Regions from separate parts of the Homo sapiens genome. Here region 2 is linked to region 1. The links come from fine-mapping of genetic effects on gene expression. A gene starts in region 1. The other region holds a variant in brackets. All regions are shown on one strand. Distances are between the middles of the regions. Region 1 holds the start of HGS (hepatocyte growth factor-regulated tyrosine kinase substrate). Region 2 overlaps NPLOC4 (NPL4 homolog, ubiquitin recognition factor).

Region 1 (5,306 bases):
AGCTACTCAGGAGGTTGAGGTGGGACGATCGTTTGAGCTTGGGAGGCAGGGGCTGCAGTGAGCTGAGATCACGCCACTGCACTTCAGCCTGGGTGACAAAGCAAGGCCCCGTCTTAAAAAAAAAAGTCTGTCTGCCATCTTAGTCTTTGAGAACCCCGAAGCAAATACAAACATAACCAGGTATCTGCAAGCTGTACAGAGAAAACCCCTTAATCCTCCAAGATGTCAAAAAATCCTAGCATGTAGCCCATGCAGTTCTCCACATAAGAGCCTAACACGGTCAGCTACGTCGTGGAGACCCAACGGGCACCAAGCGAGCCCAGCTTAGTGCACGGCTGCTCCTCCGCATCAGGGCACAGGCCCCGCTAACTCACTGTGTGTCCCCTTGGCGGATCAGGTCGCAGATCTGCAAAATGGACTCCCAATCTGTCTCCAACAGGAGCTGGCTGGTCGCCTTGTCTGAGAGAGAAAATGCCATGAAAGGGAGGGGTTATCCTGCTGGACGCCCCGTGCAGCACCCCAGCTTGGCAGCAGCTGGGGGGGACTCTCTCCTTCCCCTTTAGACATTTGGACCAAATGAAAAAGCATGACAGAATCCTCCTGAGCGTGCTGATGGGCAGGGAAGTGCCATCCTCCCCAGGGAAGCAGCAAACAGCGTAAGAGCACACCAGGTGCTGGTCCAAGCCCTCCCACAACCCGCGAGCGAGGTAAAGACACTCAGCAGAGAGGCGAGGGCACTGCCGTGAGTCACACAGCTCACCAGAGACAGAGGCTGATTCACTCTTAAACATCAGGCTCGGCTGCTTCTCAACAAAGAACCCTATCACCCGTCCCTTGGAGTCCCCGTTCGCCCAGATGCTCCCGGTTTCAATGGGACCTTAGCTTGGGCAAGGGCTAGAGAGGCCTGCAGTGTAGACTCCAGGCCCCTTGCTCCAAGCCAAGTGCTTTGGAAATAAGGGCAGAACGGGGCTCCAAGGAGGACTCGCCAGCATACCTGTCATCATACCACATCACTGCTGTCTCCAACAACTGGCCCCTCTGGGGGGGCAGCTCCAGCTCTGCCCACATCGCCTTTCCCGGATACAGAAACGATCTAACAAGCCAAGCCACGTCCACTTTCTATACTGATTCAGTAGTTAACCTCTGGATTCATCCCTGAAGCACTGAACTACCTGTGTGGCTGAGATACTCAGTCTGCTTGCTGGTTCCCTTGGCAAGGAAGGTGTCTCACTTGAAGTCTCCTTGAAAACCCTACTTGACAAAAAGGCAAGCTTGGGCAGCCCATTCGACCACCCAAGCTCCTACCCCCAAACATTAGACGCATTTTCCACGTGCTGCTGGGCACGTGCACATCAACATTCGTTTCCCTCCCAAAACGCGTCAATTCCAGGAGGCTCAGATAGGATCAGCTTTCACCTCCAAAAACGTGAGAAAACGCCTTCCTAAACCATTAGGCACTTCCCGAAGCCAGTGTGGGAACAAAAGGTGGGTCTGGGACCCGCAGCCCCCAAGAGAGCTCGAAGGTCCCAGAGAGAACACTGCCGGCTCCACCCTTCGAGGCCCAGTGTTTTGGGTCAGAAGCCCAAGTGCGAGCCTAACATCCGACTGAGTCACCCACTTTCATGACTCAGGCCTTGTGGCCCACTCGGCCGGGTGCTCGTCGGTCAAGAGGAAATCGGCCGAATGCCCGGGCCCGCGGAGGAGCGAGGTCGCCGAGCGCCCCTGGCGCCCTGCGCGGACCCTCGCAGAGCCCCATTTGCCAACGCCCGACGGACGCCGACCCCACGGCCGCGCCGAGGGTCCAGGATCGGCGGCTCCGAACCCGGGAGGACAGCGGGCCGGGGAGAGGCGGGCAGGGCGGCCGGTCCGCGCCCCTCGGGCCCTCGGGGCCGCGCTGACTCAGCGCCGGGCGGAGGCTGCGGGCTGACCAAGGCCGAGCCGTCGGGTGGGGACGCGTTACCTAGGAGACGCTCGAAGGTGCCGCTGCCTCGCCCCATGGCGACCTCCAGCCCAAACCCGACGCCGCGGGCGCTCCCCTGCTACGAGCTGGCGCGCCCCCCGACTTCCGCTTCCGCCTTTTCCCTCCAGTGCGCGCACGCGCACGTCACCGCGCCGGCCCTAGAGCCGCGAGGAGGCGGGGTCTTCCGCTCTCCCGCTAACGCTGCGCGCTAATTGGACGCGCCCTTGGAACAATGAGCCCTAAGAACCAATGAGAAGTCCGAAGGTGAGAACTATCCAATGAGAGTGGCCGGTGGGCGGGCCTTGAGCCGCGGCGCCGAGCTACGGGTGCCGGGTGGAGCGAAGCACGGAATGTGTCTCCTGCTGGGGGCCACGGGCGTCGGGAAGACGCTGCTGGTGAAACGGCTGCAGGATATCCTTCCGCGCGGGGACGGGACCGGGGCGCGGGGGGCACCCGGAGTGGGGCGGGGACTCACCCTTTAGCTGCTCGGGTCCTTGACCGCTTCGCACAGGTGAGCTCCCGGGATGGGAAAGGCGACCTGGGGGAGCCGCCCCCGACACGGCCCACGGTAGGTGTCCGCCCCCGCGGGTGGAGTTGCGGGGGGTCAGTTCTGCGCTTGGCGAAGAGCTCCGGGCTCCTCTAAGTGCACGCCGAGGCGCAGCGGGTCAGGTCGTGACTTAAGGCCAGCCTTCGGGAGCGGGGGACGGCCCGAGCTGAGGATAATTGGCGCGGGATGAGGGGGCCTGCCGCCCTCCACGGGCACTTCCTCTCCCCTCGCAACGGCTTCCTGTGGCTGGTCGCCCCCACAGCGAGTCCAGCTACTGATGGGCGTCGGTCCCTGCTCGCCGTTCCTGCGTTAGGGAGAATGGGTCTGCGGGGTTCAGGCCACCGTGTAAGGTGTGGGCACGGTGCTCTTCAGGAGTTCACAACGGGACAGCGGTTGTATTGTTCTTTTTGCATCGTGGTTTTTCCTATAGGTGGGCACCAATCTTACTGACATCGTGGCACAGAGAAAGATCACCATCCGGGAGCTTGGGGGGTGCATGGGCCCCATCTGGTCCAGTTACTATGGAAACTGCCGTTCTCTCCTGGTGGGTTGTAATCCTATATGGGCTTCCTTTAGGGAAGTGTGTCTACATTTCTGTGACGTCCAGTCCCCAACCTTGCTGTGTGTAGAAAGGGGTTTGGGTTATTTAGTGACTATACTACTCATGGAAATAGGTCTTAGCTAGTGTTGCTTCCTGCTGGGCACCCTGTCTGGTTTCTGGTGCTTGCGCTCCCAGGCCCCCGGTAGGAGCTCACAGAGGGCTTGCTGAGGGCAGGGCTGCTGCTCCGCAGAGAACAGACTTGGCCCTCTGTGTCACTCCCCGGTACGTCTGTGTTTATGTTGGACTTATACGTACCTCTGGTTGGTCTCATCTTGATAAGGCCTGTGCCGCGGATACCAGTATGGAGAACTGATGGCCACATGAGGACAGAGACGAGTGACACCAGGTCGTCTTCATAAAACTCGATTCCCTCTGCTTCTGCTTGTTCCCAAAGCTTTGTTTAAAGCTACTTTGGGCCGGGCGCGGTGGCTTACTCCTGTAATCCCAGCACTTTGGGAAGCTGAGGTGGGCGAATCACGAGGTCAGGAGATGGAGACCATCCTGACTAACATGGTGAAACCCCGTCTCTACTAAAAGTACAAAAAATTAGCCAGGCGTGGTGGCGGGTGTCTGTAGTCCCAGTTACTTGGGAGGCTGAGGCAGGAGAATCACTTGAACCCTGAACCCTGGAGGCGGAGTTTCAGTGAGCCGAGATCGTGCCACTGCACTCGGAGCGAGACTTCGTCTCAAAAAATAAATTAATTAATTAAAAAATGCAGTTTTGCTCTCCCAGTGCCAGGTCTGTGAGGCCCAGGGGAGGAAGTTTGGCAGCGGGGCATTGCTGCTGTCTTTTTCTTTTTCCCCAGTTTGTGATGGACGCCTCTGACCCCACCCAGCTCTCTGCATCCTGTGTGCAGCTCTTAGGTCTCCTTTCTGCAGAACAACTTGCAGAAGCATCGGTGCTGATACTCTTCAATAAAATGTACGCGTCCCTGAGCTGAGAGGGAGCACAGCGGGGGCGGGGGCTCCCTCGGGTTACAGCCGGAAGCATGGCTCGGTAGGGAGGTGGTGCAGCTGGGGGTCCGGGGCAGGTGTGTGGCTGCCACTGCTCTGATGGGGCACCTCTTTCTCTCCAGCGACCTACCCTGTTACATGTCCACGGAGGAGATGAAGTCATTAATCAGGCTTCCAGACATCATTGCTTGTGCCAAGCAGAACATCACCACGGCAGAAATCAGCGCCCGTGAAGGCACTGGCTTAGCAGGGGTGCTGGCCTGGCTCCAGGCCACCCACAGAGCCAACGATTGACTGCACGGCAGAGGCGCAGCTGGCCTGAGCTGGGGAGAGGTGGCAGAGGGCAGTATGGCTTTGCTGCCAATAGTTTCTTCTCACAGGGGCAGAATAACCCAAAGTAACCCTACATGATGGGGCTCTGTGCTGAGATGCAATGATGTGTAAACTGAGGCATGTGGAGATGGAAGTTGACATCTGGCCTCTGAAAAAAGTGTCCCCAGGGGCTAGGCATGGTGGCTCACACCTGTAATCCCAGCACTTTGAGAGGCCGAGGCGGGTGTATCACCTGAGGTCGGGAGTTCGAGACTAGCCTGACCAACATGGAGAAACCCTGTCTCTACTAAAAATACAAAATTAGCTGGGTGTGCTGGTGCATGCCTGTAATCTCAGCTACTTGGGAGGCTGAGACAGGAGAATCCCTTGAACCTGGGAGGTGGAGGTTGCAGTGAGTCGAGATCATGCCATTGCACTGCACCTGGGCAACAAGAGTGAAACTCCGTCTTAAAAAATATAAGAAATAAAAAAATAAAAACCTGTCCCCAGACTGGATGAGCAGGGCCTGCAGATGGCCGAGTGTTCTGTATCTTAGAGTGGTGCTATTGGGGTTGGCTCACCTCCTTCCTGGAGACCTGCTGGACTGCCCCCAAGGCGTATGGACTGCACAGTGCCACTGAAACCTGGCCTCTTGCTGTAGCACAACCTCCAACCTGCTGAGCCGCTGGTACCCTGACCCTGCATCTGCCACAGACGGCATGAGGCAGGTGAAGTGAGTGTGGTAGTAAGAGCCAGGCCTCGAGTTAGAAACAAGCTGGTGGCCGGACGCAGTGGCTCACGCCTGTAATCCCAGCACTTTGGGAGGCTGAGGCAGGCAGATCACCAGATCAGGAGTTCGAGACCAGACTGGCCAACATGGTGAAACCCTGTCACTACTAAAAATACAAAAAATTAGCTGGGCGTGGTGGCTT
Region 2 (5,369 bases), 57 kb after region 1:
CCCAGCTGCTGGTGAGGCTGAGGCAGGAGAATGATGTGAACCCAGGAGGCGGAGCTTGCAGTGAGCTGAGATCGCGCCACTGCACTCCAGCCTGGGCGACAGAGTGAGACTGTCTCAAAAAAAAAAAAAAGTATGAATTGTAGATATGACTACAGTTGACTCAAAGAATCATCCCTGGCTCCTCCCTGGTCTCCTGACCTGCATTGTGTCCAGGATTCCCATGACAGTTTTTCTTTTTTTAACCAATCACAAAATATTTCATTTACTGTGATAGTTGCATATTATGTACTTCTTAGCTTATCTTCACAGTTTCTTCCTTATTTACTTTTCCCATGGATTCCCCCAGACTATTTCTGTCTGGTGTTGTTTCTCTTCAGACTGAAAAACATCCATTAGCCTTTGTTGTAGGTAGGTTTGTTGGTCACAGACCTTTGGGTTTTTTTGACCTGAAAATGTTTTCGTTTTGCCCTGTGTTTATATGAGGGTTATTTTCTTTTTTTTTGAGATGGCATCTCACTCTGTTGCCCAGGCTGGAGTGCAGTGGCATGATCTCGGCTCACTGCAACCTCTGCCTCCTGGGTTCAAGCAATCCTCTGCCTAAGCCTCTCGAGTAGCTAGGATTACAGGCACCCGCCACCATACCTGACTAATTTTTTGTATTTTTAGTAGAGACGGGGTTTCACTATCTTCACCATGCTGGTCTTGAACTCCCGACCTCGTGATCCACCCGCTTCAGTGTGAGCCACCGTGCCCAGCCATGAAGGATATATTTTCTTTTTCTTTTTTTTTTCTTTTTTTTTTTATGAGAGGGAGTCTCGCTCTGTCTCCAAGGCTGGAATGCAGTGGCATGATCTTGGCTCACTGCAAGCTCCGCCTCCCGGGTTCACGCCACTCTCCTGCCTCAGCCTCCCGAGTAGCTGGACTACAGGCGCCCACCACCATGCCTGGCTAATTTTTTGTATTTTTAGTAGAGACGGGATTTCACCATGTTAGCCAGGATGGTCTTCATCTCCTGACCTCGTGATCTGCCCGCCTTGGCCTCCCAAGGATATTTTCATTCAATACAAATTTCTTTTTTTGAGATGGAGTCTTTTTCTGTCGCCCAGGCTGGAATGTGGTGGCGTGATCTCGGCTCAGTGCAACCTCCGCCTCCTGGGTTCCAGCAGTTCTCCTGCCTCAGCCTCCCAAGTAGCTGGGATTACAGGTGTGCACCACAATACCTGGCTAATTTTTGTTTTTGTTTTTTGAGACAGAGTTTCGCTCTTGTTGCCCAGGCTGGAGTGTGATGGCATGATCTTGGCTCATTGCAGCCTCTGCCTCCTGTGTTCAAGCAATTCTCCTGCCTCAGCCTCCCGGGTTCAAGCAATTCTGCCTCAGCCTTCCGAGTAGCTGGGATTACAGGCATACGCCACCAAGTCCGGCTAAGTTTGTCTTTTTAATAGAGATGGAGTTTCACCATGTTGGTCAGGCTGGTCTCGAACTCCTGACCTCAGGTGATCCACCCGCCTTGGCCTCCCAAAGTGCTGGGGTTACAGGCGTGAGCCACTGCACCTGGCCTCAAAACAGATTTCTGAGTTGACAGTTCATTTTTGTTCCCCACCATGCATCAATTTTTTTTTTTTTTTGAGACGGAGTCTTTCTGTTGCCCAGGCTGGAATGCAGTGGCGCGATCTCGGCTCACTGCAAGCTCTGCCTCCCAGGTTCATGCCATTTCCCTGCCTCAGCCTCCCGAGTAGCTGGGACTACAGGCACCCGCCACCATGCCCGGCTAATGTTTTTTGTGTTTTTAGTAGAGATGGGGTTTCACTGTGTTAGTGAGGATGGTCTCGATCTCCTGACCTCATGATCCGCCTGCCTCGGCCTCCCAATGTGCCGGGATTACAAGAGTGAGCCACCACACCTGGCCCTTTTTCTTTTTTTTTTTTGAGACGAAGTCTCATTGTGTCGCCCAAGCTGGAGTGCAGCGGCACAATCTTGCCTCACTGCAACCTCCGCCTCCCGGGTTCAAGTGATTCTGTTGCCTCAGCCTCCCGAGTAGCTGGGACTACAGGCTCGCACCACCATGCCCAGCTGATTTTTGTATTTTTAGTAGAGACGAGGTTTCACTATGTTGGCCAGTCTGGTCTCGAATTCCTGATCTCAGGTGATCCGCCCGCCTCAGCCTCCCAAAGTGCTGGGATTACAGGTATGATCCACCCTCACCCAGTCCATTTTAAAATTATTATTATTATTATTTTTGCCTAGGTTGGAGTGCACTGGCAAAGTCACAGCTCACTGCAGCCTTGACTTCCCGGGCTCAAACGATCCTCCCACGTGAGCTTCCTAGCTAATTTCTTAATTTTTTGGTAGAGATGGGGTTTCACCATGTTGTCTAGGCTGGTCTTGATTTCCTCAAGTGATCCTCCCCACTCTGTCTCCTGGATGCTGGGATTCCAGGCGGGAGCCGCGGTGCCTGGTCCTGTTGAGCAT[T/C]TGAAGCTGTCGTTCCACCGTCTTCTTGGTCTTCTCGTCTTCGTTGACCTCTGGCTTTCAGTAGGGTGACTCTGGTGTGCCTTGCAGTGGTGTTCTTTGTATCTTAACTTGAGAGAGTTTGCTGAACTTCCTGGAGTTGCTATTTGATGTTTTTCATTAAATTTTGGGGTTTTCCCCACTCTTAAGTATTTTTCTGTTCTATTTTCATTCTTTTCTTTTTTTTTTTTCTTGAGATGGAGTCTCGCTCTGTTGCCCAGGCTGGAGTGCAGTGGCGCGATCTTGGCTGACTGCAACCTCCGCCTCCGGGGTTCAAGCGGTTTTCCTGGCTCAGCCTCCCGAGTAACTGAGATTACAGGCACGTGCCAGCTCACCTGGCTAATTTTTTTTTTTTTTTTTTGAGATGAAGTCTCACTCTGTCGCTTGGGCTGGAGTGCAGTGGCGCAATCTCTGCCCACTGCAACCTCCACCTCCCAGGTTCAAGCGATTCTCCTGTTTCAGCCTCCTGAGTAGCTGGGATTACAGGGGTGCACCACCACACCTGTCTAATTTTTGTATTTTTAGTAGAGATGGGATTTCACCATGTTGGCCAGGCTGGTCTCAAACTCCTGACTTCAGGTGATCTGCCCAACTCGGCCTCCCAAAGTGTTGGGATTACAGGCTTGAACCTCCGCGCCCAACCCTCATTTTTTTCTAGTGAGGAGCATTTGATCCTGTACCATGGGTTCCTAAGGCTGTTTTTTTTTTCCCCAAATCTCTGCCTTCAGATTATATAGCTGTTATTTTTATTGATTCATTTATGTTTTTCTTTTTAGAGTTGGTTGGATTCTCACTCTGTCGCTCAGGCTGGAGTGCAGTGGTGTGATCATATCTCATTGTAGCCTTAAACTTCTGGGCTCAAGCAGTGCTTCCACCTCAGCCTTCCGAGTTGCTGGGACCACAAGCTATTCACCTATGTTTAGGTTGACTCTTCTGCTCTCTCCCTTCTGCTGATAAGCCCGTTCAGTGAATTTTTTATTTCTGTTCTTGTGTTTTTCAGTTCTAGAATTTCCATTTGATTGTTCTTTTATGATTTGTTTCTTTACCGAGATTCACATTCCTTTTATTTGGGTACATCTACTCTGATGACCCCTCGGTGTAGAGCTCTTGCTCTGGCCCCTTGCCTGGGCTCAGACACAGATGCGCCCACCTGCCTGCTGGACGGCTTCACTGCAGTGTGTCTGGTTGTCACCTCCGATCTCAGTGTCAAATGGAAGTCCTGATTTTCCCTCTAGTCTTCTTCCTTTTTTAGCCTTTCCTTTCATGGTCCCTGCACAGGTGTTACCTCCACATAGTTTCTCAATCTAGAATTCTCAGCTTTACTCTGACCTCCTTCCTTTCTCTCATTCCATTCCTGCCCCTGGTCCTGCTCGTCAGCTGGGCCTGGTGATGACCACTGCTGGAAAGTGTGCTCTTGCCTTCATCCCCACCATCCTGTCCCATCTCATCCCCTGTCTCAGCCCATCTCTCTTGTCTCTAATTGGCACTCTAGCTTCCTCTTCAGTGTGGTGTTGAGCAACAGGGATTTTGTGGATGATGATTCCCCCTGCCTTTCGTCTGTGTGGCTTCCCACGGCCCTGTCTGCCTCGCCAGCCTCATCTCTTTCCATCTTCCTTATTGTTTATTGGCCTCTGGCCTCCGTGTTTCCAACACCCTTCCTGCCTCCTGGTCTTTGTGCTTGCTCCTACTCCCTGTGGCCTTTTCTCCCAGCTCGCGTGTGGCGGGCTTACCCACCGCTGGGTGGGCCCTGCTCAGCTGAAGCTCTTCAGAGAGACTTCTAGCCTCCCATCTGAGGTTTCTTTTCCTTTTCTGTCGTAGTGCTTATTTCGACCTTTGTTGACTTTGTCTCCCCCATTTGTTGGTAAACTGCTTGACAGCAGGAACCTTGTCTTTTTTTTGTTTTTCTTTTTTTGAGGTGGAGTCTTGTTCCGTTGCCCAGGCTAGAGTGTAATGGCGTGATCTCATCTCACTGCAGCTCCGCCTCCCAGGTCGAAGTGATTCTCCTGTCTCAGCCCACCGACTAGCTGGGACTGTAGGCGTGCACCACCATGCCTGGCTAATTTTTGTCTTTGTTTTTGTTTTTGTTTTTTTGAGACGGAGTTTCACTCTTGTCGCCCAGGCTGGAGTGCAATGGCGCCATCTTGGCTCACTGCAACCTCTGCCTTCTGGTTTCAAGCAATTCTCTTGCCGCAGCCTCCTGAGTAGCTGGGATAACAAGTGTCCGCCACCACGCCTAGCTAATTTTTGTATTTTAGTAGAAATGGGGTTTCATCAAGGTGGCCAGGCTGGCCTCGATCTCCTGACCTCGTGATCCGCCCACCTCGGCCTCCCAGAGTGCTGGGATTACAGGCGTGAGTCACCACACCTGGCCTAATTTTTGTATTTTTAGGAGAGATGGGGTTTCACCATGTTGGTCAGGCTGGTCTTGAACTCCTGACTTGAAGTGATCCACCCGCCTTGGCCTCCCGAAGTGCTGGGATTGCAGACATGAGCCACCACGCCCGGCCAGAAACCTTGTCTTTTCTAGTTCATTTTTGTGATCTGAACACCCAGAATGGAGCTGAGCACATAGAACTGCTTAATATTTGTTGAAGGAATGAGTGAATATTCCCAGCATCTAGCAAAGTGCCCTGCACAGTGGACGTTTTATGATTTAGTCGCACCATTCTGTGTTAGGTTTCAGAATTGGAATTGAGTTTTGTTTTTTTTTTTGAGACGGAGTCTCGCTCTGTCGTCCTGGCTGGAGTGCAGTGGCGCGATCTCGGCTCACTGCAAGCTCCGCCTCCCGGGTTCACGCCACTCTCCTGCCTCAGCCTCCCGAGTAGCTGGGACTGCAGGCGCCCACCACCACGCCCGGCTAATTT

What was found. PIP is the estimated chance that this variant, and not a neighbour inherited with it, causes the effect.
Region 2: its variant is fine-mapped to the expression of HGS in whole blood (TOPMed, PIP above 0.99).

The regions. Positions count from the first base shown.
Region 1 is chr17:81,680,758-81,686,063 of GRCh38, reverse strand. It overlaps HGS (hepatocyte growth factor-regulated tyrosine kinase substrate), which reads right to left and starts at 2,053. Exons shown (of 22, transcript NM_004712.5): 1 at 1,961-2,053; 2 at 375-459. The coding sequence starts at 1,997. It overlaps ARL16 (ARF like GTPase 16), which reads left to right and starts at 2,267. Exons shown (of 5, transcript NM_001040025.3): 1 at 2,267-2,371; 2 at 2,470-2,528; 3 at 2,938-3,051; 4 at 3,915-4,030; 5 at 4,185-4,877. The coding sequence starts at 2,311. The coding sequence ends at 4,356. RefSeq lists silencers at 1,823-1,922, 2,133-2,192, 2,403-2,482 and enhancers at 2,071-2,365, 2,583-2,802.
Region 2 is chr17:81,623,646-81,629,014 of GRCh38, reverse strand. All of the region lies in intron 2 of NPLOC4 (NPL4 homolog, ubiquitin recognition factor), which reads left to right. Among named protein-coding and RNA genes, the nearest start is that of NPLOC4, 11 kb to the left of the region's middle. The variant T/C (reference allele first, on the strand shown) is at 2,470.